Linked DNA regions of Homo sapiens. The protein of the gene in region 1 interacts with the protein of each later gene in a pairwise test. Each region holds a gene or a part of one and is shown on either strand. Other genes may lie near its edges. The genes, in order: TRIO, LIMS1, ITSN2 and BLMH.

Region 1 (3,927 bases):
CATCGTTGGCCTAGATGCTAGAGCCAAGATCTAGGTCAGGGACTCAGAGCTGCCCAAAGGAGATTTCACTTTTAAAAAGACGTTCCAGGCTATCGCTGGAATGGGATGCTGCATCTGATACCTACTTAAGTTCTGCCCTGGCTCCTGATTCTAAGTGAAACAACTAAAAAGTTAAGTTTGTCATTTTGGAGGGCAGAAGAAAGGAACAAGCCAGTGAGACATTACCTGGTTCTGACCCAAACGGAACATGAACAGGAGCCCTGGCGGCGGGGGCAGCACAGGCCTAAGCAAAGCCAAGAGCAGACGACAACTCCTGGAGAGAGCCACGCCAACAGGCAGCAAATCTTCGGTGTCTTTTAGGGAGGGCTCTTAGCAGCAGCAGAAGTGATTTTTGTACTATGCATAATAGAGATGTAAAAAAGCCTGGTCTCACAAACACCAAAAAATCCATCTCCAACGCAGAAGAGCCTTTCTAACAGAGAGGAGCTGAATTCTGCACAGAATCTATTATTCTGTGACAGGTAGGTAGAGAGAAAGCTAGACTTAGCTTCAGGGCATGAAGGGAATACGTCCCAGTTCTGCTATTAAGAGGTAAGACGGGGCTGCTCTATCTGGCCAGTCGCACCAAAAAAAAAAAGGTGGGGGGGGGTAGCTTTCTTTAGAAGGAGCTCATGTTTTCCTAAACCTTTGCTTTCTGCAGGCACTTCTCAAGGAGAGTGAGCACTGGGGAGTAGATTAACCCCAAGCTAACACTGGACAGTCGGCTGTGTCACTCCCAGCCACAACCAATCTGCTAAAATGAATCAAAAATAACCCCGCCTAGCAAAGATCAAGACAACCAAGAGAAGACAGTACTAAACCAGGTATCTACCAGCACTGCTAACTTCTGCCTCTCACCATCGCCCTCCCGCTGCAATTGCTCCTCGTGACCCGGATTGGGGAACTGATCTCACCGAATCTGGGGAGGTGATTTTCAAAGAGGCCACGGAAAAGCGTGAACCGCCGACCTCCCGCGCGTCCCCCAGCGCAGGGCCGCTCCCCCGGCCTGTCGGTGTCCCCAGCCCGGCCGTCCTCCCCGAGGCCGCCACCAGCACCCCCGCCCGCCTCTCCAGGCCCGGACCTGGCCCGCCCTCCTCCGCTCTCCAACCCGGAGTCTGCATCCTCCCTGCCCCGTGCCCGGCCCGCTAAGGACTGCGCTCTGGGTGCCGGCCCCGAGGCCGCCGCCGCCGCCGCCGCCTCCTCCTCCTCCTGCTGCTGCTCAGCCGACGCGCGAGCAGACCGGACTGGGCGCGGGGACGCGGGACGCGGGGACGCGGGCCCGGCTCGCGCGGGATCTGGGCCGGAGCGGGAGGAGGCGCCGCCGCTGGGGTACCGGGGACGCCCTGTCACGCCCCCTGCGCAGCAAACCCGGTGCCCCTCCCGCGGACCGGTCGCCACCCGCGCCTCTCCCGCGGCCACCCCCTCTGCGCCGGGGTGGACTCGGGGCCACCTGGCACCGCCTCCACCTCCACGCCACCCACACAGTGCCCCGCGAGCCCCAGCCCCGCGCCGCCCCCCCGGGGCCACGTTCCCAGCTGACCCTCCCGGGTCGTCCCCGGAGACAATGGCTCACCGCGCCTCCCGGTCCTCCGAGCTTCAGCTCGGCCACCGTCCCCACTCCCTGGGCAGTGAGTGCCGTGACTGCCCCGTTTCACAGAAGTGTAGACCAAGGCCGGGGAGATGACAGGCTAGAGGGCCAAGCAAAGAAACCCGGCTGCTAATGGGGTCGAGGAGGGTCCAGGTACAAATCAGCCAGAGACAGGCACAGATCAAAGACCAATTTCCCGTCCCGGACCGGCCCCGGCTCAGTCCGCTCGGCCTCCGGGGTAAGAGCCTCCGCCCACGCCATCTCCGCCGCCGCCTCCTCGGTCCTCCAGCGAAAGAGACAAAGAGCCGGCGCCCCAACCCGCGAAGCCGCGGCTGCCGGGAGCGGCAGACCGGGGGATTCTGCCCTAAAACGAGGGGCGGGCGCAGGGAGGGCGAGGTGGTGGCATTCGGGCCAAGCTGCCGCGCGCCCGGCTGCGCGGGCAGCGGGACACGCGGATGTGGGGCGGGCAGCCCCGGCGCATGGAAGCAGTGGTCCCAGGCGAGAGCCTGCGGGCCCCGACGGACGGACGGGCGGGCACCAGCGCGCGGTGGCCGGAGCTCGGCAGCTCCGCGGCGGGTCGGCCGAGCGCTTGGGGCAGCGCCGCTGGGCGGGCCGGCCGCAGTTGCACTCACCGGATCGGAAGAAGGCCGCGATGTCGGCCAGGTCCTTGGCCGCCTCCTCTGCCCCCTCGCCGGCACCGCCCCCGCAGCCCGAGCCAGCCGCGCTGGCCGCCGCGGCGGGGCCGGAGGACGCGGCGGGGGCGGCGGCTCCGCCGCTGCTGCCGCTCATGGCTGCGGCGGCGCCCGCGGCCGCGCCCGCCTCGGGCCCCGCGCCCCTAGCGCCGCGTGCCGCCCGCTCCGCGCCGGGCCTGGCGGCGCCGAGCACCCAGCTGCCCGCGCCCGGCGCGCGGACGCAGAGCCCCGGGGCGGCGGGGGGCGGCGGCGGCGGCTCGGCCCAAGGAGCGCGCCCACATAGACGAGGACTCCGCCCGGTAGCCGCGAGCTGGCCGAGGGGCGGAGGCGCGGAGCCACGGCCTCCCGGGCGCCGGCCGGAGCGCGGGCAGCAGCACGCGCCTCCCGGACGCGCAGTCGCGAGGGCGGGGGCCCGTGGCCGGCGAGACCTCCGGGATCACGGGCGCCGGCGGCTGCCGCGAGCCTCCATCTTGATTTCAATGGGGAAGGAAGGAGGGGGGAGGGGGAAATCACGGCCGAGGGAACCCGGGTGAAAGGAAAAGGGAGAACAGGGAACGGAGAGGAAGGAAAAAAAAGAGGGGCTTCGGTAATTTCCGGCGAACTTCGTCAAGGGCCGAGCCTGGGCTCGGCGGTGGGCGGAGCCTGGGGGAGGGGCGGGGCCGCGTTGGGCGGATGGGCTCCCGCAGGGCTGGCGGGGAGGCTGCAGGAACGTTCGGTTTGGTTCGGTCTGCTTCCCCGGGGCAGCTCCAAGCCTTGGAAGGCGCAGGAAAGCTCTGACCAGCCGGGGCGGACCTTCCCAGGCCCGGCATTGCGCCCCCAACCGGGGCGCTGGCTCCTGCACCGGTGCGCGGTCCCCTGAGCGCCGAGGCGTTTCGTCGTCTAGCCCGCAAGGCGGGGTGACGCGGGCCGGGGCGGGTGCCTCCCTAGTGGGCTCAGCGCTGGCCCTGGCTCGGGGAGGGGGCTTCTTAATAGTTGTTGAGTGAACATAGAGGGCCCGAAAACAGGTTATCTGCTCCAGTCCCGGAGGCCACGGTACTCCTAAGGGTACAAAGCTCTCCTGTAAAATGGGATTCCTCTCGGTGTATCCCCATCTCCCAGGGGACTTTCGGCTGCTGAACCTCGGGTTCACGGTTTCTCAGTCCTTACTCCGCCAGAATGAATGGGGAAGATGACGGGGTCTGGGGAGGCCAAAAGAAATGTTCCTTTGCGGAAGATCCGTGTCAAACCAGCGCTGGACGAATATTCTAGTTCAAAACGCCTATGCCCCGGCTACGAGGAGAGTGAAAGGATCCAGTGCCGGGGGAAACAGGCAGAAGCAAGAGAGATGAAAAACAACTGGGTGATGAAACCACCACACGAGTATACTGGAAATAGACAAATGTAAATGGTGGATGGTGGCCATCAAATCTTCACTGCTGGAGTGGAGGTTACAGCCAGGAAGAGGCTAGAGTGATCCTTGTGGTACAGGGTTAGAGTTGGAGACATCGTTATGGACTCATGTTTGGGGTCTACATCTATATTATATATTCATAATGTATATAATGGGTCTGTACAGAGATTTGTAGATAAAGGGTCGTACACATACTTGTATCTCTTTGCTTTGTCAGC
Region 2 (8,041 bases), on another chromosome or scaffold:
ATGCATTTCCAACAGGTAATTACAGGAGCTTATTACTGTTGAAATCCAGAGTGTTTAATTTTGAATTGAGTAAATATACAACTTGGTAACTTGTTCACTGTCTGTGAAATTATATTCAGGTAGCATTTGTGAAATAAATCTAGTGGTATATTGCTATCTATGACAAAAATTATAAAATCTGCTGATATTTTTACTGCATTTAAACATTATATTAAACTAGACTTTGCTTCAAGATCATTTTAAAGGACAATGTTAGTAACAAAGGAAATTCCTAAACACATATCTAAAATGAAAAATCTTCTATTTTAAAACACTACACTGGGAATTACTTTACGGCTTTTCTCCCAAGGTCATCTTAGAGCAAAAGCTATTAAAACTGCCATTTTTTTGATAAAAGAAAAAAATTATTCCTGTTTTCAGACAGACTACCTTAGCAAGCTTTCCAGTTTTAATCTTTTTTATTTTTTATTTTTTGAGACAGAGTCTCACTCTGTCGCCCAGGGTGGAATGCAGTGGCACGATCTCGGCTCACTGCAACCTCCGCCTCTCAGGTTCAAGCGATTCTCCTGTCTCAGCCTCGCGAGTATCTGGGATTACAGGCACCCGCCACCATGCCTGGCTAATTTTTTTGTATTTTTAGTAGAGACGGGGCTTCACCATGTTGCCCAGGCTGATCTCAAGTGATCTGCTGCCTTGGCATCTCAAAGTGCTGGGATCACAGGCGTGAGCCACCATGCCCGGCCTCATTGTTTTAATCTTACATTTACATTTAATTCCTCTTTATAGAAGGAAACATGTAAACTGGAACAAAATATTTTTAGAGCTCCAAACACAATGGTAACTATGAGGGAAAACTGGAACAATCATGCTGGTAATTCAAAAGAATTTCAAAGATTGAAATACTTCTCATAAAAATCAGGAATAAAAAAAGAGTTTGAAGACATTGAGGAAATGAATTCATAAACAGTAGCATATGGGTATTGTATGAATGCACATTCGAACATCACAGAAGAAGATGTCTTACGTAAATCAGATGGACTTTGCTTAGATACGAAACATGCTGAAAGATTTTTTTTTTTTTTTGAGACAGAGTCTCACTCTGTCGCCCAAGCTGGAGTGCAGTGGCAGTCATGGCTCACTGCAGCAGCCTCAGCCTCCTGAGTAGCTGGGACTATAGGTATGGGCCACCACGCCTGGCTAATTTGTTTTTTTTTTTTGACGGATGGGGTCTAGGCATGTAGTCCAGGCTGGTCTCAAAATCCTGGGCTCAGGCAATCCTTCCACTCTGCCTTCCTAAAGTGCTGGGATTACAGGCGTGAGCCACCATGCCTCGCCATGCTGAAATAATTTAATACATAACTTAGAATATATGCATTTTTAAAAATATCAAACAACACTTATAATTTATCAATTAAATGATCGTGGCAAGGAAACCAAAAACCAGGATTTTAAAAGCTACAGTTAATCAGACAAAAATCCTTTAAAATGTTTTCCAGGGTCTATTAAGAGATTAGAATTCTTCCCTTTAAATCCATTAAAAAAAAAAGAAAGAAATGTATACTATATGGTGTTTAAAAAATGAGGTGAGTGAGTCTACAGAGTAAGTGAAATACATGACCACAAAACTGTATTAAGTATGGAGTGTATTCATTTAATTTTTGTAATTTTAGCAGTTATGCAAAAGGACCAGTTCTACATAGGACAAATACTTGTATTTCAATCTCTGATGACTACAAATACATGCCCAAAAGTTGCAGGGGGGGAAGAAAGCAAAAGACAGAAACAGAACAAAAACATATTCCAAAGGACTAACCAAAGGAGAAAGCAGTGAAAATGATGACACAGGGATAGAAAAGTTTACAAACAGACTGGCTTTTTCTTTTTCTGCTTGTCCTTATCCTTTGCTTCTCTCTCCCGTTTGGCAAGTCGCCTCTTAAATTCTTCTGGCATTTTCTCATAACAGTGTTTGCAGACTGGCTTTAGGTCAATTTCAACAAACTTATCCCTTTGAGTAGGACAAAGAAGGAATAGAAGAAAGAACAGGGAACAGTTAAAGGAAGAACCTTTACTTTCAGAAGGCCTGAACAGAAAGAGGAAATAAGAAATCAAATAATTCTCTTTTTCTAAATTCTAGGATTTTTTTTAAGTGTCTCCCCAAAGTTTTCAGTCTTAGGATTCACACTGGACAAAACCGTACACTTACTTGAGTGTTAATTTAGTGTTGCAGGTAGAACAGGCAAAGCAGTTCACGCACCAGGCCTTATTAAGAGCAGAGACCACTGGAGAAAGAGGAAAGAGATCTGGTCACATGGAAATACATCAGTATGGGGAGCAGGGCAGCTTAGAATTTCAACTCCAAAACAGAACTACGACTGTGTCTGTGGCACTTGGTGGAGGTTCTCAAGAACCTTTTTTTTTTTTTTTTTTTTTTTTAAATGAGACAGGGTCTTGCTCTATAGCCCAGGCTGGAGTACAGTGGCACAATCTTGGCTCACTGTAACCCCAACCTCCCAGGCTCAAGTGATCCTCCCACCTCAGCCTCCTGAGTAGCTGGGACTACAGGTGCATGCCACTACACCTGGCTAATTTTTTTTTTTTTTTTTTTTTTGAGACGGAATCTCGCTCTGTTGCCAGGCTGGAGTGCAGTGGCGCAATCACGGCTCACTGCAACCTCCGCCTCCTGGGTTCAAGCGATTCTCCTGCCTCATTTTCCCAAGTAGCTGGGACTACAGGTGCGTGCCACCATGCCCAGCTAATTTTTGTATTTAATAGAGACGGGATTTCACCATGTTGGCCAAGATGGTCTCAATCTCTTGACCTTGTGATCCGCCCGTCTTGGCCTCCCAGAGTGCTGGGATTACAAGCGTGAGCCACTGCGCCCGGCCTATACCTGTCTAATTTTTGTATTTTTTATAGAGACACGGTCTTGCCATGTTTCCCAGGACGGTCTTGAACTCCTGGGCTCAAGCAATCTACCTGCCTCGGTCTCCCAAAATGCTGAGATTATAGGCATGAGCCACCATGCCCAGCCAAGAACCTCTTTCCTGAGAGCTTCTTTTCTTTTGTTTTTCAGACAGGGTCTCGCTCTGTTGTCCAGGCTGTATTGCAGTGGTGCGATCACAGCTCGAACTCCTGGGCTCAAGCAATCTTCTCCTCTCGTTCTCCTGTGTAGCTGGGACCATAGGTGTGTGCTACCACACCTGGCTAATTTTTTATTTTGTAGAGATGGAGGTCTTGCTCTGTTGCCCAGGCTGGTATCGAACTCCTGGCCTCAAGAAATTCTCCTGTCTCGGCCTCCTTAAGTGCTGGGATTACAGGTATAAGCCACCACACCCGGCCCTCAACCTTTATGTATACAGTTGTTGCTCAGTATGTGCAGGATACTGTTTCTAGGATGCTGTGAGGATACCAAAATCTCAGACGCTCAAGTCCCTGATATAAAATGCATATAACCTATGTACATTGTCTTGTATACATTTATTTATTTTTTTTGAGACGAAGTTTTTGCTCTTGTTGCCCAGGCTGGAGTGCAATGGTGTGATCTTGGCTCACAGCAACCTCTGCCTCCCGGGTTCAGGTGATTCTCCTGTCTCAGCCTCCCGAGTAGCTGGGATCATAGGCATGCACCACCACACCCAGCTAAGTTTTTGTATTTTTAGTAGAGATGGGGTTTCACCATGTTGGCCAGACTGCTCTTGAACTCTTGACCTCAGTTGATCTGCCCGCCTTGGCCTCCCAAAGTGTTGGGATCACAGGCGTGAGCCACTGAGCCTGGTCCTATCTCGTATACTTTAGATCATCTCTAGGTTAATTATAATGCCTAGTACAATGTAAATGATATGTAAATAGTCATTATACTGTACTATTTGTACTGTTATATTGTTATTTTTCTCTAAATATTTTTGATCCATAGTTGGTTGAATCCACGGATGTTTGGATCCAGCCCCTGGATACGGAGGGCTGACTTTAATCTTCCCCCATCCTTAAGTATCCTGTGAAGTTATAAATGATGTGTGCCATGTCTTACACCAGCAACTGTGCCCCCTTGGCCTGGGCACATGTGGCAACTGTCCATGCACCATGTTGTTTAGGTGAGCTTGCTGTTTCTGTCCCTACTGCTGTTGGCCCAACATGGAAATATGAACTAGGTAAATAATTTTCAAAAATCCAGACATTAACTTATTTGCCCCTGTAGGAGTCTTTTTTCCAGAGCTGATGATAAGAAGACAGTTTCCTTTGCAGCTTCTTTCACCTGGCATCTATTTCACAGAGGAGGGAGGTAAGTTTTATTTTCAATGGCACTAAAGATTGTTTTCCTGGATTGTTTTCACAAACTGCACATGAACAGTGTTTCAAAAGTATTTCCTGAATTAGGTGATGTCTGCAGGGAGCCATGAATCATGCTGAAAACAGGATTGTTCAAAACTTTGCCAGGAAGTCTCTGGCAGAAGTGTGTTAGCGAGTCTTAGCAAACACAGCTGCTTCCTTTCTGTTCCAATCAATCAGCCCAGCCTAATTACCACAGTACAAGGGTGGTAAGTCCTAGATATGCTTGCTGATAACTGCCAGCTTTTAGCATGTGCAGGTTAAAGTGCCTCTTCCTAACTACGATAGCAGATTAAACTGTTCCTAATAAACGTTGTTCTAGAGCTTCCTGAAACTGGACACAAACAGGTCTTAGGGTCCACCAGGGACAGTTCCCATGATTGCTGGCATACAACACTGCAGCAGTGGCCGAAAGTAGTGTCATAAATCAGTAACAAATCCAACTCTTTGATATTATCATCTTACTGCTACAGATTACTTGGAAAATACGCCAAAGATAGAGAAAAAGTAACTGATAACGATCACATTTCAAACCATACAATCACCAACCTGAATTTCCACATTACCCAAGTGTTTTTGTGTCAAAGTGGCACCAATCTAAAACTCACACAGATACTTACCATCACCTTCTATAACACGATTGCAGTGGAAGCAAACATCACCAAATAGCTGAAAATAAAAAAAGGTGGTCAAAGTTCAAGATGTGTTAGAATTTTTAGAACACTGAACATTTAAAAATAGCTGGCTATCTAAATTGAGGATTTATCACTACTAGAGAAATTTAGTAAAAGTTCTTTGACAAGTTTTTACTTCTTACAATGAAAGTAATTCACTCTCATCAATTAAAAGAAAAACTTTCCAGATGACAGTTTGAACACCCAAATAAGTGATGCAAAATATAGAAATCTGTGAGTCCATATGGATAAGAAATAGATAAATGAATAAACCTATAGACGGGAGAGGAGGTGGGTTCTTGCTCAGGCAGAGCGCTGAGGACCAGACTATGGGTGGAGGGCATGGGGCTGGAGAAGTGTCGTTTGCAGCTGGCGCAGAGACAAGAATCATCAAGGGGTGCTGAATCTAGGGCAGGTTGATGAGGAACAGGACATTTCCATGGTCATAAAATGATTGCCCACAGATTGCTTCTTTCTTACAGAGGAGGGAAGGAAATTGTAATTCACAGTGATGTTATCAGCCAGCACCATGCCTGGGAGATCACCAGGGCAGGAGAGGTATAAAATGCTCCAGGGGCAAGGTTCTGAGAAGATGCCCTGCCACTGTATGAGGCCACAACCTGCTGTGTATAACCTCATCTAAGCACAGAGAAGCACCAGGTGAACCCAAGTGGAAAGTAGTCTATTAAAAAGGGGTTAGGGGCCCTCTGCATCCCTCCAAAATGTCAATGTCATCAAAAATTTTAAAAGACTCTGGAAACGTTCCAGATTTAAGAAGGCTAAAGAAACATCACAGCCAGAGGCTGGGTCCAGTCTGGGAGTGGAAAAAATGCTGTGAGGATATTGACTCAAGTGACAAAACTGGAATAAATGGTTAGAGTACGGTATCAATATTGATAACTACAATTATGTTAGAGAGTCCCATATTCTTGGGAAATATACACTGAAGTATTTAGGGATAAAGGAGTATGATGAACTTATTGGCAAAACAGCCATCGTACTTGTATATAATATTTACGTAACTATGTGTTTTACACAGGAAGACTGAGCTTGGGAAATGATAAAGCAAACTGTGGACTTGAATGAAAGACATACAGGTATTCTTTGTATATTTTATAGTTAGCTTCTGAGTCTGAAATTATTTCCCAAATAAAAAGTTAAAAACAAATCTCTACTGAACAATGTACATCTTCCAAGAGATTTCCTTGTAGCTAAACTACTGATAAGCTTAGGTTCATAAAAGTCTATCTAGCATCCAGTGACTAAGGTCAATACCTGGTTATAGTGAGTTTCACAATATGCCAGGCCTTTCCTCTCATAATGGCGATGTCCAAGAAAGGGTTTCTCACACTTGGCACAAACAAAATGCTGAAAAAAAATTGCTATAGGTCATTTTTGAATTGCCATATTTTATATCTAATAAAGTAAATACCAGAGTTAACCTATTTTCAGAGAAGATGAAGGAAAGTTTGAGACAGTCATTTCATTTGGCCATAGGTGGCCCCATAATATAATACTTCTGCAGTTGTAATTCAGGTGTCTGTCTTTGAAGGTTACTTTAAGACATAGCCTATTATAATAGCCCAAAAAGAGAATAGAGGTGAGCATCTCAGTAGCACCTATAAAGGAGGAGCTGCTGCTGGATACAGACCATGGCACTTCCTGCTTCAAGAAGGCTTTAGGAGCAAAAGTACACATCCTGTATCATTACTGAGACATTCACAAAAGCAGTGTACATTATATATTCTTAGCTGTCAGCAAAGTCAATTGTCTTTAAAATGTCCACGTTTAATCTTTAGAGTCTCCTAATCTTGCCAGGACACCTGAATCATGAAGATTTGAAAGTACTGGTTACCCCTGAATCATGGGAGATCTGAAAGTATTGGTTACCCCTTAATCATGGAGATTTGAAAGGATTGGTTACCCTTTGCCATTTAGAACTCACCTCCACATGCCACTGCTTGCCCATAGCGTTCACCACGCGCCCTTCGATGGGCCGTCGGCAAGCACCACAGATGGGGACCCCCATTTTATCATGGCATGGGAGGCAGTATAGCTCCCCTTTCAGCTCCCGTGCATCGGCAGTCAGCTCCTTCCTGTCCGTGAGAAAGACACACAGCTTAATACTAAGAGAGAAAAGTGGCCAACCAATGGGGCTAGCACACTTTTTAGAAGGTTTTTAAAGACATTACTATGACAATCCCTGCAAATTTCTTTTTTCCCCTTTAGAGGTGATCAGAATAACCTGAATTAATAGGCCTGAACAGGTTTCAGACTCCTACCAAAACATCTGTATCTTAAAAGGATAAGATGCAAGACTAGGTCAGATACATACCACCACACCAGTCATATTCATAATTTCCTTCTTATATTATCACATTACATTTTAGTCCATTTGTCTTCCTCTAAAAGCTACAGGGAATAATCACAGTGCTGAGGGTAGACTCAGTAATACTATCTGCTATGGTGTGACTGTGTCCCCAAAGTTCATGATCCCCAATTCTGAGGTGTTGAGAGGTAGGACCTCTAAGGGGTGATTACATCATGAAGGCTCTGCCCTCACAGATGGATTAACGCTGTTACTGAGGGGGTGGGTTCCTTATAAAAGGACGAGTTCAGCCTCCTTCCTTCTCTTCCTTCCCCCCTCCTCTTCCCCCACCATGTGATGCCCTCTGCTATGTAATGATGCAGAAGAAGGTCCTCACCAGATGCCAGCCCCTTGATCTTGGACTTCCCAGCCTCCAGAACCATGAGCCAAATAAACTTCTGTTGGTTACAAATTACCCAGTTTGTGGTATTCTGTTACAGGCGCATAAAATAGACTAACACACGACCTTTCCAAGCAAACTGAGAAGTTGGGAGACTAGTTCCATTTACTAACAATTATTTAAATTGTCACAAGCTGTTGAAAATAGTTATAGGTTAATAGGTTTATTTTCATAAACAACAAAATGCCCAGAATTTTCCTTCTCCAAATACTCAAATTAAATATTATTTTCAGTCTCCTGCATCAATAAACATTTGGTCAGAGATGGTCCCAA
Region 3 (8,041 bases), on another chromosome or scaffold:
AGACCTGTGTGCATTTCTTTGCTGTAAGTTACCCTCAGGTTATCACTCGATGAGGCAAGCTGAAGGAGGGTCAGTAGCTCCCACAGAGATCATCCATTTCACCCATTAAAGAAACCCAGCCCCAGAAACACGAGGTAGATTCACCAAAGTCACAGAGCAAATTAGTGGCAGAGTCAAGATGAGGCCCTGGGTCTCCTGACCTCATCCTCACTCTGTCCTTGGTTTTCCCACGTACCAGGAAGGAAACTTGGTTTCATTATAGGCAACTTGTGAAGGTACCTTTTAAGAGCCTTTCATCTGGCTGAGAAAATTAAAAAGAAAAAAAGCAGCTTTCATATAGAAAGTAAATCAGTCAGACTTTGACGAAGTTCCATCCATAAACATATGTCTTTATTCTCTTTCTGTACATATGGGCAATGATAAAGCTTAAAGATGCATGTCCTAAGAAATATGCAAAAACAATGAATTTACATAAATAATTTATACTTCAGAAAATTAAAGTTGAAAAATATTTTCCACATTATTAGAGTTCACAGTATTTAAATCAAGCTTTCCCACTTATACTCCAGACTATATTGTCTTAGCAGAGAGTGATAAAATCTAATCAGGAATAAAATGATCAAGTTTCTGTTTTTATTCAGTGCACGAGTAGACGCTATTTCAGTATCAGGCCGCGCCAAGTGTCGAGGCTGCAGCCTCTCATCCTGACCCTTCCCCTCCTGAGTGGCTGTGACCCAGCAGAGGTCACTGGCGTGGAATGGTTACAGCGTCACCAAACCACTCCACGGTGGACACATTCAACCGAGCGGTAACATCTGGTGGTCTGATGCCTCATTTCCAAGTAATACTTTTTATAGCCCTGAAAATGGAAACCTTGGCATCTAAACAAACAGAGCTGAACATGTGAACACTAGGACAAGGCACTGTACTATGGGGTTTGGTTTCTTTATGGGAAAGGTGTTTGCATAGATTGCTAGCTATTTAGTGTGCAGGAAAACAGAGCCCCCAGCGTGCATGGCTTTGTGAGGGGTGAAGCTGCATGGTGCTCCCTCAGCCCCAAGAGAGCGCAGTCTCTCATTCTCCAGCCCCAGCCTTGTGGGCTGTCCCGCTGGTGCTGTCCTTTAGAACCCCTACAGGAGAGTTTTTTGCTCAAAAAGCTGCAGGTCAAAACGGACCCAGACCTCCCCGGTGGGGACCTCATGCAGCAGCAGTCGGCGGGTCATAGGGCCTTTGCTTTCCTGTTCTGTTCGAATTTTTGCCACTGGAATTTCAGTACGACCCAGGAAATCTGGTGAATAAACACAGGAGAGTCAGAAGTCTTTCTTCTTTATAAAATCATTAAAGAGCTACATCCGGAAGAAGTGGATTCATAAAACCTTCAAATCTGAAACAAGGAACTTCTTTTGGCTCATGGCTGTTGAATGTCGTGAGTGGGTGTGTGGGGAATGATGGCAGGTTTGTGTGTGAGAAGCTGCCACATGGAATTCAAATCTCCATTCTGAGAATGCTCCAGGAGTGGTGTTCACGTCGTGTGTGTAGGGAGTGATGGGTCAAAGACCTGAAACACATCTCAGGCCACCTCCTCCCCTGAGGAAGGCCACCCACCTGCTGCCAAAGCGAGATGACACAGGCCTGTGTCACTTCCCTGAAGTGGCATGGGGTCTGCACACAGCTGAAGCCCCTAGATCTGGACTCCAGGATCTAGGAAACTGGGAAAGCCTTTAGATCCCCTGGCTGAGCGACACTTACCATCTGGTGAAAACTGGTCTCTGTCAAACAGGGTGAGACACAGCACGTCTTGGTAGAGATCCTTAATAAAGAACTGGCAGTTAAAATTCCACTTGGGATTGAGTGTGTCCTGGATGGTCCTGGTGGTGTAGCTCTGGGAGCCCATGCTGATTTCACAGTATGGGTTGCTCTTTCCTGAACAAAAACAAACCACAGACACATGTGGTGCATGCAGGTAAAACGAAGCGACTGACAGTGCCCTCCCTGAGCAGAAGCAGGATTCCAATAATGGGTCACTCGAGACCATGGCAGCAGGAGCCGCTGCCTGGGGCACCATATCCCTGTGGTCTAGTAACAGGGTCTCCAAGTTCCCAGTGCTGACAGCAGCATTAACTGGGGAGTGGCCGAGAGCTCCACCGCCAGGACCACTCCGCACGGAACAATCCTGGGTGAGTGTCACTGCAACCTGCTGCATGCTTCCTCGGCGCAGACACACTCGGGAAGGCGGGCACTGGCACTTACTGGGAAAACAGTGATAAGAATATTGGTCCAATATGCGCATTTTAGTGGCACTGGACACACTGTTAGAAAGCATTCCTTTATTCAGTGTTCAGAAGAGTCATCAGTGGCTGGGCGCAGTGGCACTTTGTCAGTGACAAAGTGCTGTAATCCCAGCACTTTGGGAGGCCGAGGCGGGCAGATCACTTGAGGTCAGGAGTTCGAGACCAGCCTGGCCAACATGGTGAAACCCTGTGTCTACTAAAAATACAAGAATTTGCCAGGCGTGGTGGTGCACACCTGTAATCCCAGCTACTCAGGAGGCTAAGCCTTGAGAATCACTTGTACCCCAGAGGCAGAGGTTGCAGTGAGCCAAGATCGTGCCACTGCACTCCAGCCTAGGTTATACACTGAGACTCTGTCTCAAAAAGTCATCAGCAAAAACTGGGGCAGGGCAGTTATGTCTGCTGAATGAATCAAGGCAGTATTTACCATTTGGTTTGCAGGCTTTTAATTCTGTAGCTTCAATGACATGCACCATCAGGCGCCCAATGCCTGAAGTCTTTTGGGAGCGGGCTACAAAAGAGGAAGACAAGTCTCATTAATCTCTTCTCCAAGGATGCAGACCCTGTCTTTCAAACCAACCATAACACTACCGGCTCCCTGTCCCCATCTGCCACTGCCCTGGGCCCAACAGCCCAGCATCTGGCTGCCCTGTGCCTTTCCCCAGGCTGTGTTGCCTGCTAGGAAGCCCCTGCTTGCTCTTTCTGCCCTGCCTGCTTTCTCTGCCCGTCAGCATCCTACTCATCCTTCAAGATGCAGGTCTGATCCCACATCTACCTCCCAGATCCCTTCCCTCCTCTGCATCCAGTATCCCTCGCTTATGAGCAGCCCACAGCCTGCTGGGTCTGAAATCGTGTGTAATGTCTGTCTCCTCTGCCAGACAGGAGCCAGGGTAGAGCATGGACTGTTTCGATCATCCTTATATTAACCCCTCAATTGCCTAGCAAATAGTAATATTAATAAAATAATACATGGTATTTGTGCAGCACTTAATAGCAGCTAACATTTACTGGATACTTACTTTGTGTTAGGCATGTGCTAGACTTATGTAAATTATATTATTTAAACTGCATAATTACCTGATAATGTAGCTCCCCATTTTACTGATGAGAAACACTGAGGCTTAGAAAGGACTGGAGTGTGATCCACTCAGAGCTGCTAAATGGCAGGGTCAACATTTAAACATCAGATACCAAAGTCCAGGCTCAGTTAAGCCTAGCACAGAGCCTGGCACAAAGTAATTGACAAATGTGGGAAGGACTGAACGCACGGACGATGCACAGCAACATATGCAGATGCTGATGGGAAGCAAAACTCAGGCAGAAAAACCGGATTGACATCTTTGGCCAATTAAGAGATCATATGCGTTATGAAATGATCAATCATTGATTTTTCAACAGCAAGCTTTTAAAGTACCATTAAAATAACACTAAATTAGCAAAAGCTGTTTTAAACATACCTTTTAGGAGTATATAACAAAATGGGGGAAACCTGAATAAAAAAACACATAAAGAGCTGCAACTATAGCAGCCAGGAAGCTGGTGGGAGGCCCAGGCAGGAGGGCAGGCTGCATGGGGGGGCCCGGCGGGAAGGAAGGTGGAGATGCAGGGGGCCGGCGGGGAGGAAGGTGGAGATGCAGCTGGCTCAGAGCACAGGCCCCCTGTGGGGTGGAGGCCACAGGCTGGCCTGGCACAGCTGGAGATGCAGCAGGGAGGTTGGGGCCTGGCATTCATGTGGAGGCTGGAGAAGAATGTGGGAGCTCTGGTCTGAAGGCCACGGTGGGGCAGGGTGGGGTGGGGGGTGCTTTACAAAGACCATTGCGGCTCCACTGAGCAGGTGAGTGATCTGTGCCATGAACACAGAGGACATCACCGGTGCAACAAATCTGGAGCCCCACTGGCATAAGTCACATGCTGGCCCCGATGTGGGAGGGAGTTGCCTTGAGGGAGCTTATGGCCATTAAGTGAGAAAAGCAGGGACTGAGAGGGCGCAAGCAGAGGCAACAGAGGATGAGCGCCCGGAGGATGATCGCAGCCTCAGGACAGCGGGGGGTCCAGGTAGAAGTCACACTGGTTAGGGCAAGAGGGTGTCATGGAGGAGGCTGTGTTTGACGTGGGCCTTGAAGGATGGGAAGAATTTAAGGTGAGGGCAGAGCACTTGAGCTGGAGGGGGAGCTCACATGGGAAGGCCAGGCAGGGCAACAATGGGCTGCTCAACTAGGCAGCTGGATGGGCCGGGCACAGGAAAGAGCTAGGGATGGGGCTGGGTGGCAGGTAGTAGTGGGGATGGGCCCTGAGTGTGGGGTAAGAAATGTGTCGTTAATTTGGGAGGCAATAGGGAAGATACTTCAGCAGGAAGAGGTATAAGAGCAGCTCTGGAAAAAAGAATACTCCAGAAATGAAGAGGATGGGTGGCAGAGAGGAAAGAGAGCCTTGTGCTGCAGCCTGGGTGGGAGATCGGGGGCCTGTGATACGGGGACAGGAAAGGGCGATGGGAAAGTGGCGAGGGAGGAGGACTGCAGTGCAGCTGACCAGGTGTGAGGTGCCAGGGAGGGGCCTGGGTGGCCAGGGACCACACTACTGTCCACAGAGGGTCCCAGGAGGAGCTGCTGCTGGAAGGAGGCTGGTGGTCCCTTGGGAAAAGCCGATGTGTGATGTGGGAGCAGCGGGGCAGGTGGTTCTCTGGAGGGTGCTGTTCAGAGGCGCGGGCTTGGGAGAGTGTGGCTAGCCTGACCCTGAAGCTGGGGGTCGGTGGGGTCCCCGAGGGAGAGCGCTACAGAGGTCGGGGAGAGGCCTGGGCAAGGGTGGAAGAAGAACTGGGAAGGCGGCCATGGGGTCCAGAGGGAAGGCAGCGCCTCAGTGACTGCCATCAGTGCAGGGAGCTGGGGCAGGGAAAGTGAGCTGAGCCACTAACTAGGCCACTGGTGTCACTGGTGGGGACAGGACGTGGACTGAAGTCTGGTGAAGTGAGAAGGGGGAGGAGGCAGGGGCAGAAGGATGGGGAGAGGGCAGACTTAGGGTCTAGGCCCCCTGGCTGCAAAGGGAGAGGGTGGATGGCAGGCCCTAGAGGAGGGTGAGGAGGAGCAGTGGCTGCTCAGGAGCTGAAGGGAGACAGACCACAGGTGTGGCATGTAATGGAGCACCACAGCCCAAGCAGAGGTGAGGTGAGTCATGGAGAGAAAGGAGTGGAGAAGGTGCAGTGGAGTGGGGGGGATAGAGGTGGTGCAGAGAGGGAGGTCCCGGAGCTGGCACTGCCAGCCCGTGTCTGTGTGGGCAGGAGCCCCAGGGAGGTTTGCAGTAGTAGCTTCAAGAGGGGAGGGCTCTCTGGTCTGATCCCGCAGCAGGTCTGGTCTTTCAGACCCGTCCCTATATCATCAGCCTGACTGCAGGAGCAGTGGCCGGCATTCCTAGGGCCCCTGGGGGCTGCGTCCCACCCTCCGGGCACCCTGATACCTTGGTAAGCTTTCTCACGCTTCTTCTTCTCGGTGTCGATGTACTGCTCAGACGCCGCCTTGATCTTCTGCACCCAGGCGGTCCTACGGGAGAAGCAGGGGCAGCCGTTGGCCGCATCCCACCCTCACAGGTCAGCGTGGAGCCCCAGAGCTCTGCACATGTTCTTCAGTCTTTTGCTAACCTCAACTTTCACAAGTTTCCTATCAAAGACCTGATATTAGTCAACTGAAAGATGCTTATGCTAATGGAGTATGAGAGCTGGTAGTGACCCTTCTTGGCTGACCACAAAATGCCAGGCACTCGCAAGGCGCTGGGACCTGGAGACAGATGATGCATTGGCCCCACGGATGATACCTGTCACGAGGGGTTCTAGCGCACACAGAGGAGCAGCAGCACCCCCCGGGTTGGCGCCGCGGAGGCACTGTTGGAGCTGCAGCCTGAAGGAAGCTGGGAACAGCGGGGATGGCACCCACACAAGGGCGCCTGAGGGGCGAAAGTCTGCAGGTGGAGGGACGAGGGCTGAGGCCTGTGGCCCAAGGAGGCCTCGGAAACCAGCAAAGCACAGTGGGCTGTCGCCTGCGGGCAGCCCCTGCAGGGACTGTAGCAGGGCCTCAGGTGCTGATCTGCCATTTGGGAAGGCTGCTGAGTGGTGTGGGGAGAGACTAGAAGCCGGGAAGCATGTTAGGAGGCAGCTGCAGTGACCAAGGCCTACCATGGGACTGGAGCAGAGGGGATGTGTTAAGAGAGGTTCAGGATACAGAATTAGTGGGGCTTAAGCACGGCTGGAGATGGGTTTATGGCAGAGGGAGACGTCCAGGCCTTCTCCCAGAGTTCAAGGCAGGCCACACATGGTCAGGACTGACCTCTCATTAATGTTGTCTGTTCGGAGGGTGTAGACCCGATCAATGTGGGAAATGTGGAAGACAGGCTCATCGCTGGAAGGGTCTGTGGGCAGTTTCACCAAGACTTCATTCAGGAAAATGGGCTGAAAGAATTAGGGCCAAAACACAGGCTGTGAGATGGGCTAGAACACTCCACCCGCCTATGTCCAGAGAGAGTTCTGTTTGTTCTGAAGAGCCTTGTTGAGAAGGAGAAAGGGGTCTAGCGTCTAAGGTCTTCTACACAGAACAAATGAAACCTCCATTTGTAAGAACAATGAAGCCTCCATTTCTGGAAAAGTCATTATCGAGGTGGGTCAGGTGTTGGGACTGGGTGGGGACAGGAGCTCCAAGCGCCCATGACGGCTGGTGCAAAAGGCTCTCTGCTAGCAACGCTGGTGCTGTGCTGGGGCTCGGCTTACAGAGACCCAATGCTGAATGCACACAGTGGTGAGCCCAGGTGTCACGCTGGCCAGGAGGAAGCCAGAATCTCAGCTGGAATCTGGCTGATGGCCTGTGGCAGGTGGGGAGTGCCCAGCTGCATGGGGCCCTTCCCGTGGGAAGCAGCAAAGGAAGCACGAGCGATCTGGAACCAGGTGAGGAGGGTCCCGTAAGGCCAGCTCAGGGTCTGCCAGGAAGGCCTTAAGATAGAGGCAACACCTCATTAGGCCCCTGATGCTACCCCCAGACGCGTGATACTCACCGTTTTATACATTTTGAATTGAGCATTGGACTTCGAGCTGAAAAGTTTCTCAGAGCCAGAGGAAACAGCAAACTGCTTGACCATGTAGGTAAGAAGCAGGAAGTCATTGAAGAGGAATCCGTGCAGTTCCTTGTTGCTCTTGGTCTTGTATAATTTCCCACTGTGTAAGAGCTTCCGGGGCCCCAGGCAGTTGGTGAGAGAGTTGAAAATAAGTTGCTTAAAGAGAAAGAAAATTTCACTTTTTAAATCCCGGCACAAACCATCCAGTGCCCCTGAGAGGCCAGTGCCCTGGGCCTGAGGATACTGTGGTGGAGTTTTCTAGGTGGGAATGTGGCTAGAATCATTCACTTTGCATGAAAGATCCTTAAATACATTACTCTTCAGAGTCCAAACTGGCCCAGTGAAAATCATTACTTCTAGCCACAGAACACTGATTCTACCAGCTGAATTCAAAGAACTCAAAACAAAAAATCCCAGTGTTCTCTCCTTAGGAGAAAGGAAGATGACAATCCAAGAAGGAATGCCCTTCATGCCTGCAATCCCAGCACTGTTGGGAGACAGAGGCGGGAGGATCACTTGACGCCAGGAGTTCAAGACCAGCCTGGCCAACATGGTGAAACCCCAGCTCTACTAAAAATACGAAAATTAGCTGGGCATCGTAGCAGATGCCTGTAGTCCCAGCTACTTGGGAGATGGAGGCCAGAGAATCGCTCCAACCC
Region 4 (8,041 bases), on another chromosome or scaffold:
TTTTGGTTGTAAAAGGAATTCAGAAGAAACTGAAGGGGCTCAACAGCTCCAAATAAATAAGGCTCTAGCTGTAGCTCTTCAGAAAGAATATGGAACATGCAGAACTTAGTCTCTCAGTGGGAGTCCATTCTCTATGTGTCACAAGAGTATGCAGGAAAAAAAGGAGATGATTAAACATAAATTCTCCACATCAGAAGCTGACAAGTTTACATTGTCATTTAGGCAAGAAAACTTTAAAAAATAATGAAAAAAGCGTTTGAAGTAACTTCTTAGAAAACTGATCTCTTTTGAGCTGGTGGAACCAACCAGTTTCTGAATTCATTTAAATCACTGCTGATTAAAATTTAAATAAATAATGTCCAAAATATTGGGGAATATTTTTGCATAAGCACTACACTCACATTGTTAAATACAAAGAAACAAAAGGCAAAATACATGTGAGAGAGGTCCTTGCATGTTCTAGTTAGTGTGAGAGACACACTTGGGAGTTGCATGTACCTGTTTTCAAAAATTTTTTAAACCTCATTAATTCTTTTTTTTAGCAGATTTCTCTATCAAGATATTTACTCAACTTCCTACAAGTAACAACTATTTATAAGTAACCCTAAAATAGAGAATGGTGAACAGTCAAGGAATCCTATATGATTTAGTTTACAAATTAACCTTCATTGTCATAAATGACCAGGAGGAATGCTATAAAGTATGCATGCAAATTAGTCCCACTTGTCACAATGACAAAATACAAAGTTACCAAAGTAACATAGCAAACGGGGGCTCTGGAAAATCTTTCATTACACTCCCAAATGCACTGAACACATTTCCGCAATAGTCAATTATTTTTTTAAAGTGTCTTTCTCATAGAGGATGGCTTTTTAGGAACGCCCAACGATTTCCACTCAGATAGAAAGTGGGATTTTGATGTCCTGGGTTAGAGTGTTTAAGTATGTGGAGTTTCTGCTATGAGTCCTCAAACTCTAAAGGATGCAAAGAAAGAGACGCGCCCTTAGGTCAACCTTCATCTTTGGATGAACCTCGGCAGAGTCATTTTGTACCAACAGCACACTCCAACAGCAACAACCCACAAATGACTTTCCATTTTAAATTTCCTGCACTCACAGATTCATGTCACTGAGGCCCAGCTTGCTATTGAAGTGTTTTCCAACATCACAGCCAAACCACACAGCCTAGAAACAGAAGAAAGAGGAAGAAAGTCAACATAAACCCCATCTTCCTATTATACCAAAGAAGTAAAAGATGTTTTAACCCCAATGTGCAAAATACAGAAACAATACCAACCTCTCCATCTTTGATGGAGGCAGCAACCATCTTTTTCAGGAAGTCAATGGGCTGGTTGTTGTATAGAGTTTTTCTCCCTCCAACCATATTGCTTAAGTATTCCACTGTGTAAAGTTTGTTGTACTTGTGCTGGGGCCTAGGGTCATTCACTAAACAAATCTATCAAGATCAAGAACACATTAATTAGGGCACAAAACCAGGAATGTCAAGCAACACACAGCTCTCCTCTAGGTTCATGTTTCCATCAAGCTCATCATCTCTGCCTACAAGCTAAGTACTACAGCCACATTGTTAAGTAACAAAGAAACACAAGGTGGCAAAATACATGTGAGAGAGGTCCTTGCTTATTCTAATTCGCGTAAGAGACACAATTAGGAGGTGCATCTACCTGTTTTTCCTACTAGCAAGAACTGCTCCAAAAGCAATTTTTTTTTTTTTTTTTTTGAGACAGAATCTCACTCTGTCGCCCAGGCTGGAGTGCAATGGCGCCATCTCGGCTCACTGCAACCTCCGCCTCCCAGGTTCAAGTGATTCTCCTGCTTCAGCCTCCCAAGTAGCTGGGATTACAGATGTGCGCCACCATGCCTGGCTAATTTTTGTATTTTTAGTAGAGACGGAGTTTCACCATGTTGGCCAGGCTGGTCTCGAACTCCCGAACTCAGGTGATCCACTCACCACAGCCTCCCAGTGTGCTGGGATTACAGGCATGAGCCACCGCACCCGGCCCTCAAAACTCATTCTGAAAAATAACATGCACTGAGTAAGAAAAATTGGAGAGCTAATCACAAGGCCCCTGTTCTCAAGTTACAAGACAGGCATCTGCTTGGAAGAGGATCAAGAAGCCAATAAAAGGAAGAGGCTCTGATCCTCCTACTAGGCAGATGAGGAAGACCTAAAGGGAACAGGAAAAACTAAGATTACTCCCTTCAACAGGAGAGTTCCCCGAGGGGACCTCAGTGCAAAAGTGCTCTGAATCCACGATAAGAAATACCCAACACACTTTCATTGTTTTGCACTTGAGAATGATTCTGGTCCTATACAGGGGCGCATGTGGGAATTAAAATGACTGCTGGCTTACAGTTTAAAAAGTCTCTGAAGAGGAACATTGTGGAAAAGCTGATAAATCCTGGCACCACCAACTTCATTAGCTGCATAAAATACTTCAGAGGAAGTGGGGAAAAATGTTTGTTTGCTGTCTAGTTTGATACTCATACATGCTAACCAAGAATCTTATACAATTCCCTGTGGTTAACAGCCATTTGAAAGTAAACAGCCAGTGACTACCAGTGCCATTCACCAACCTTATCTTCCATATTGAAGAGTGGCTTGACATGTTCCCTGTAAAACTCCAAGGGTGTTATGGGGCCAATTTTCTGATAATTTTTATCTTTGTCTCGATATTCCCAGGTGAATGTCTCTGGTGGATTACCCAAACAGATGCACACCACTCGGAATATCTGGAAGAGAGGAGGAGGAAAGGCGAGCAATGGTTAGGGGGAAATGTTATTTTTTTCACCTCTTCATTTTCCTTAAGCTTAGGAAACACAAGAAGTTAGTGGCTAAATTCAAGCTAAAAATTTCACAAGAAATCTAATACTGCGTCAAAAACTGGAAAGCCGATGTCTGAGATTTGTTATCAGTCAACTTATGAGTTCTCAAATAAACACTGTGAACAATGCGATTCTGAAATGTTAACATTTAGTGCTTAGTACTTGTCCTGAAAATTTAAACTTCCTTAGCCAAGAATCTGTCTACCATTGATACCCAGCAAGATCTGAGTTGCTGCTCTGATTATTTTTCAAGTAACCAAAAAATGACAAATTTTATAAATGGATTTCCTTCCCTTTATACATTGATGTTTTCCTTATTACAACAGGGGTCTCTAGTCATAGGAAAGTAACTAATTTTTCAGCTGGAGTTGGATGACAATGCCTGTTAAAAGTATTACTAGAAGAGGAGGGCCAGGTGCAGTGGTTCATGCCTGTAATCCCAGTACTTTGGGAAGCTGAGGTTGGAGGATCCCTTGAACCCAGGAGTTCAAGACCAGCCTGGATAACATAGTGAAACCTCATCTTAAAAAAGAAAAAAATTAGCTGGACGTGGTGGCTCATGCCTGTAGTCCCAGGTGCTCAAGAGGCTGAGGAGGGAGGATCGCTTGAGCCCAGGAGGCAGAAGCTTCAGTGAGCCATGATCGTGCCACTACACTCCAGCCTGGGTGACAGAGCAAGACCCTATCTCAAAAAATACAAAAATTAGGGGCACATGTTCTCAGGATCTCCTGAGGGCTGAGTCATGGTTTAAAAAAAAAAAAAAAAAAAGTACAAAAACTAGCCAGGCGTGGTGGCCTGTGCCTGTGGTCACAGCTACTCAGGAGGCTGAGGTGGGGTGACCACTTGAGCCCAGGAGGCAGAGGTTGCAGTGAGTTGAGATCACACCACTGCACTCCAGCCTGAGTGACAGAGTGAGGACCCTGTCTCAAAAATAAAAAGAAGAGGAGTGACTTTTAGTAATAAGGTATAATTTTTTGGGTTGTGAGACAACATATTTTCTAATGATGTCACAACACCTTCAAGTTAACATCATTACGATCCAAGGATATACTTTATATTATTTTCATTTTATAGAAATGCAAAAACAAGGCTGGGCACAGTGGCTCACGCCTGTAATCCCAGCACTTTGGGAGGCTGAGGCAGGTGGATCATGAGGTCAGGAGTTTGAGACCAGCCTGGCCAACATGGTGAAACCCTGTCTTTACTAAAGATACAAAAGAAAACAAAACAAAACAAAACAAAAAAACTAGCTGGGCATGGTGGTATGTACCTATAATCCCAGCTACTCGGGAGGCTGAGGCAGGAGAATCCCTTGAACCCAGGAGGCAGAGGTTGCAGTGAGCCGAGATCATGCCATTGCACTCTGGCCTGGGGGACAGGGCGAGACTCCATCTCAAAAAAAAAAAGAAAGCAATGCAAAAATAGAAAAAGAGATACACCCTGCACAAGGACAGAATAAAGAAAGTATTTTATCTTCTATATCAAATGTCCTTGTCTTTTTAAAAACATAACACTATGATCTGCCTGTCCCTTTTGCACCCACAGTCACCACCCTGATCCAATCATCTATTACCTGCATTATTTATACTACACATTTCTATCCGCTATCACATTCAACAGAAACAGATTTTATATTTACCAAGTGTGCCTATATTGTGCTAGATACTATGTATTTGCTAGGTCCACGTAATTCTCATAATACCCTCTCAAGGTATATTTCCCTCCACTTCCCCTTCACCTTTTTTTTTTAAATCAGAGATTGAGACACAAAGAAACCAAGTAATTTACTTAAGGTCACACAGCCAGCAAGTGGAAAACCACAATCTAAACTGAGGTCACATGCTGTCAAAAACAACAACAACAACAAAATATTGCTCCTTGGCTACAGGATTTAAAAAGGGAAGATGTACTGACCGTCTACTTTGCTGTACTATCTTTCACTACCATATTTCTTAAGCCTCTCAACAAAGATGGTGGATATTATCCCCCTTTTACAGATAAGGATATCAAGGTTCAGGGAAATAAATCACTTTCCTGAAGTCATAGAGCCAGTAAATGGCAGAATTAGGATTTGAACTTAGGGCTGACTTTAATATGTTGTTTCCAAAACTCCATCTATTTACCATTTACTGTAACTTTCTAGATTTCATATAACTTGTCTCCCATAAAAGATTATACACTTCTTAAAGATAAGAACCAGATCATGGATATTTTGTGTCCTTTATAGCATCTAGCAGTGCTGGCGACATGACACAGATACACCAGTTGATCTGAACATTGTTCCATTCTCCATATCACCACAGGAGAATTTGAAAAGCACTACTTTTCTCAACTCACGTCCCTGTTGAAGATCCAATGTTTCCCTATTACCTCCCATAACAAATCCAAACTCCGTGACCTAATTCCTTTTTCTTACTTTTTAACTTAGGCAAAACATATGTTTAGTGTGTAAAACACACTAACAATTCGTTTTTTAAAAACATACATATATACCCATGTAACCATCATTCATATCAATATACATAACATTTCCAGGCTCTGGAGGTTCTCTGGCTCCTTTGCTGTTAAGTAACCCACAACTTCCACCAGATAACCACTGTTTTTACTTTATAACCATTGATTAGTTTTGCCTGTCCTTTAACTTCGTATAAAAGTATTCATAGAACACATTATCTTTTGTGTCTGGCTTCCTTTGGCTGACATAATGTCTGTGAGATTCACACACATTGCTGTGTATATGAGCAATTTGTTCACTGCTGTGATTCTATCTTAACAGAAGCAAGTTAACTTAGAGAAGAAGTTATGCTTGCCTGTCATTTTGTTTTGTTCTGTTTTCCAAGAGAGAACCTTCCTTTATTAAGATTTACTGTGTGTGTTACGAGCCTGAACATCTAGTCATTAAACCATCTCTCTTTTAACGTTATATCCTTCCCAAGTTGGTTTCTACCACAGAAAGGAGGCAGAGTATCACATAAGCAACCGTAATTGAGTTACTCTAGCCAAGGATTAATGAGCTCTGTTTGGGATTCACATTCATTTTGTATTTACTCAGTGCCAAGGCTACAAATGACAACTTTAGGCATCTGTCATTATGAAGAAGACATTGCCACTGGTAACTATGGTCAAGTCAATGACAATGAAGGTGTACAGTCAGAACATACTTAGATTAGAAAGGTTTTAAAGACCTAAATGATGTGTATTTTCAACTAGTAACTACTGTTACATGTGTATCTACATGTAGTAGTGGAACCATTTCAATCAATTCTCAGTTATCCAACGGTGGTAAATTCAGCTCAGCCAGGCCCTGGCCAAAAAAGGAGAGGCAATGCCAGGCCCAACTAAGATGAAGATAACTAAGTGAATTTCTGGTTACTTTTAAACATATTCTAAAGATAAATACAAATGTTTTACACTATAATTTGCAAAATACCTTATTATGTACTTGACTCCCTGTTTAAAGTAAAAAGTGTTAAATTCCTCCTTCTCCCAAATACATTAGAGGAAATATGCATTTCTGCTATCTAAATGAATTCTATAGTGAGTCCTTTTATAAAACAATGCTTATGCCCTTCACATATATTTTATAAATCTGAATTTTAATAAAAATATAATTAAGGCATAAATAAGGATAAGGGTGATATTTCTTTTAGATTCTAGTAAAACTTTGTAACTTGAGACATGTTGCATTGTTTTATACTATTTGTTTACCATGACTATAAATTATCCAAAGTCATTAATATTTAAGTCAGTCTGTAACACTTTGGAAGGAATATCTGACTCTGAGCCAAATAACAATAGTTAATTAAATAAGCTCTCATTAAAAAAAAATGCTCCAAAGAATAATTTCCATGGTCTCTGATACTATATTTTCTTGATAAGAGACTCTGCAGTTCTGAAATAACATTCCCTGGGCAGTGAGCTTTAGATATCCAACTCTGCTCTCTGGTGGGCAACACTGGAGTGTCACCTGCTTCTCACAAGATCTACTTGGCATCCAGGACAAAAAGATACTGAACAGTGAACACAAGAGATTATACAGAATTGAGTAAAATAAGAGTACAACCATATCCCTCAGAATATAATTACACATTAAATTAATATTAAAACCAACAATTAGCCCATTTAGGGAAATGTATTTGTGACTTTAATTGAAATTGCTCACTTCCCATCCCAGTACTTCACATCTTTTTTCCTTTACTTTTCTCCATTGCACTTATCTTCTGGCATATTATACTTCTTATACACTTTGTCTTTCCCTACTAGAACATCAACTACACAAAGATAGGTATTCTTTTCTGTGTTGTTCACTGTTTAATCTCCAATGCCTAGAATAGTGTCAGATACATATGTTAAGAAATATTTAACGAACACGTGACTTTTTTTGTGGGGGGGAGCGGGGGACAGAGCCTCACTCTGTCACCCAGGCTGGAATGCGGTGGCACGATCTCGGCTCGCTGCAACCTCTGCCTCCCAGGTTCAAGCATTTCTCATGCCTCAGCCTCCCAAGTAGCAGTGATTACAGGCATGCACCACCATGCCTGGCTAATTTTTTGTATTTTCGGTAGAGACAGGGTTTTGCCATGTTGGCCAGGCTGGTCTTGAACTCCGGGCCTCAAGTGATCTGCCTGCCTCCCAGAGTGCTGGGATTATAGGCGTAAGCCGCCACACCCAGCCCCACATCTAGCCCCAAGCACTTTTGTCATTTCAAACCAAATTTAGAACCAATCTGATAAAGGGGGTGGACTTGGAATATGGGCTTTCCAAAATGCTGGAAAGCTGAAGGCAAAGATATACACGGCTCAATGACACCTGGCAACTGATTCTGCTTTTCCTCAACTCCTCAAACGAATAATGATGTGATCCTATTAATTCTAAATCTGGTTTAAAAAGAACAGAAGAAGCCAATGATTCTAATTATTCCCTTAAATATAGATTACTGAGAAAGGTCCCCTAAAATTGTGATATGAGTCCCAGAGTATAAAGGGCAGCCTGCCCAAAATTGAGCTAAATTTTTTGATTGATGGAGACCCTTTGCTTGTCCCCTGGGGGCAGTTGTATGTCAAGGGAAGCTACACTGAGTGCATCTGTACTTGCCTCTTGGGGCCATTTGTCTTCTGATTAAGATTTTATATCTTTAGCTAATTAAATAGAGAATTTAAACTAACCTAAAACAATGTGGATTATATATAGTCCCT

The links.
Region 2: the proteins of TRIO (region 1) and LIMS1 interact in a two-hybrid assay, tested with the Homo sapiens proteins (one large-scale study listed by BioGRID and IntAct).
Region 3: the proteins of TRIO (region 1) and ITSN2 interact in a two-hybrid assay, tested with the Homo sapiens proteins (one large-scale study listed by BioGRID).
Region 4: the proteins of TRIO (region 1) and BLMH interact in a two-hybrid assay, tested with the Homo sapiens proteins (one large-scale study listed by BioGRID and IntAct).

What each region holds. Positions count from the first base shown.
Region 1 is NC_000005.10:14,142,215-14,146,141, reverse strand, and holds the start of TRIO (triple functional domain protein), read right to left. Parts: upstream 2,801-3,927; 5' UTR 2,417-2,800; coding exon 2,260-2,416; exon of another isoform or gene 1,613-2,259; intron 1,337-1,612; exon of another isoform or gene 1,161-1,336; coding exon of another isoform or gene 1,121-1,160; intron 1-1,120. UniProt on the Homo sapiens protein: Guanine nucleotide exchange factor (GEF) for RHOA and RAC1 GTPases. Involved in coordinating actin remodeling, which is necessary for cell migration and growth. Plays a key role in the regulation of neurite outgrowth and lamellipodia formation.
Region 2 is NC_000002.12:108,674,933-108,682,973, reverse strand, and holds part of LIMS1 (LIM and senescent cell antigen-like-containing domain protein 1), read right to left. Parts: intron 7,097-8,041; coding exon 6,946-7,096; intron 6,369-6,945; coding exon 6,276-6,368; intron 6,180-6,275; exon of another isoform or gene 6,044-6,179; intron 5,661-6,043; exon of another isoform or gene 5,483-5,660; intron 4,996-5,482; coding exon 4,947-4,995; intron 4,536-4,946; exon of another isoform or gene 4,373-4,535; intron 2,280-4,372; coding exon 2,204-2,279; intron 2,006-2,203; coding exon of another isoform or gene 1,858-2,005; exon of another isoform or gene 1,814-1,857; intron 1-1,813. UniProt on the Homo sapiens protein: Within the IPP (ILK-PINCH-PARVIN) complex, binds to F-actin, promoting F-actin bundling, a process required to generate force for actin cytoskeleton reorganization and subsequent dynamic cell adhesion events such as cell spreading and migration.
Region 3 is NC_000002.12:24,202,496-24,210,536, forward strand, and holds the end of ITSN2 (intersectin-2), read right to left. Parts: intron 7,539-8,041; coding exon 7,323-7,538; intron 6,727-7,322; coding exon 6,605-6,726; intron 5,825-6,604; coding exon 5,742-5,824; intron 3,781-5,741; coding exon of another isoform or gene 3,752-3,780; exon of another isoform or gene 3,749-3,751; intron 2,803-3,748; coding exon 2,719-2,802; intron 1,924-2,718; coding exon 1,750-1,923; intron 1,289-1,749; coding exon 1,131-1,288; 3' UTR 369-1,130; downstream 1-368.
Region 4 is NC_000017.11:30,271,445-30,279,485, forward strand, and holds part of BLMH (bleomycin hydrolase), read right to left. Parts: intron 2,754-8,041; coding exon 2,598-2,753; intron 1,456-2,597; coding exon 1,297-1,455; intron 1,185-1,296; coding exon 1,117-1,184; intron 1-1,116. UniProt on the Homo sapiens protein: The normal physiological role of BLM hydrolase is unknown, but it catalyzes the inactivation of the antitumor drug BLM (a glycopeptide) by hydrolyzing the carboxamide bond of its B-aminoalaninamide moiety thus protecting normal and malignant cells from BLM toxicity.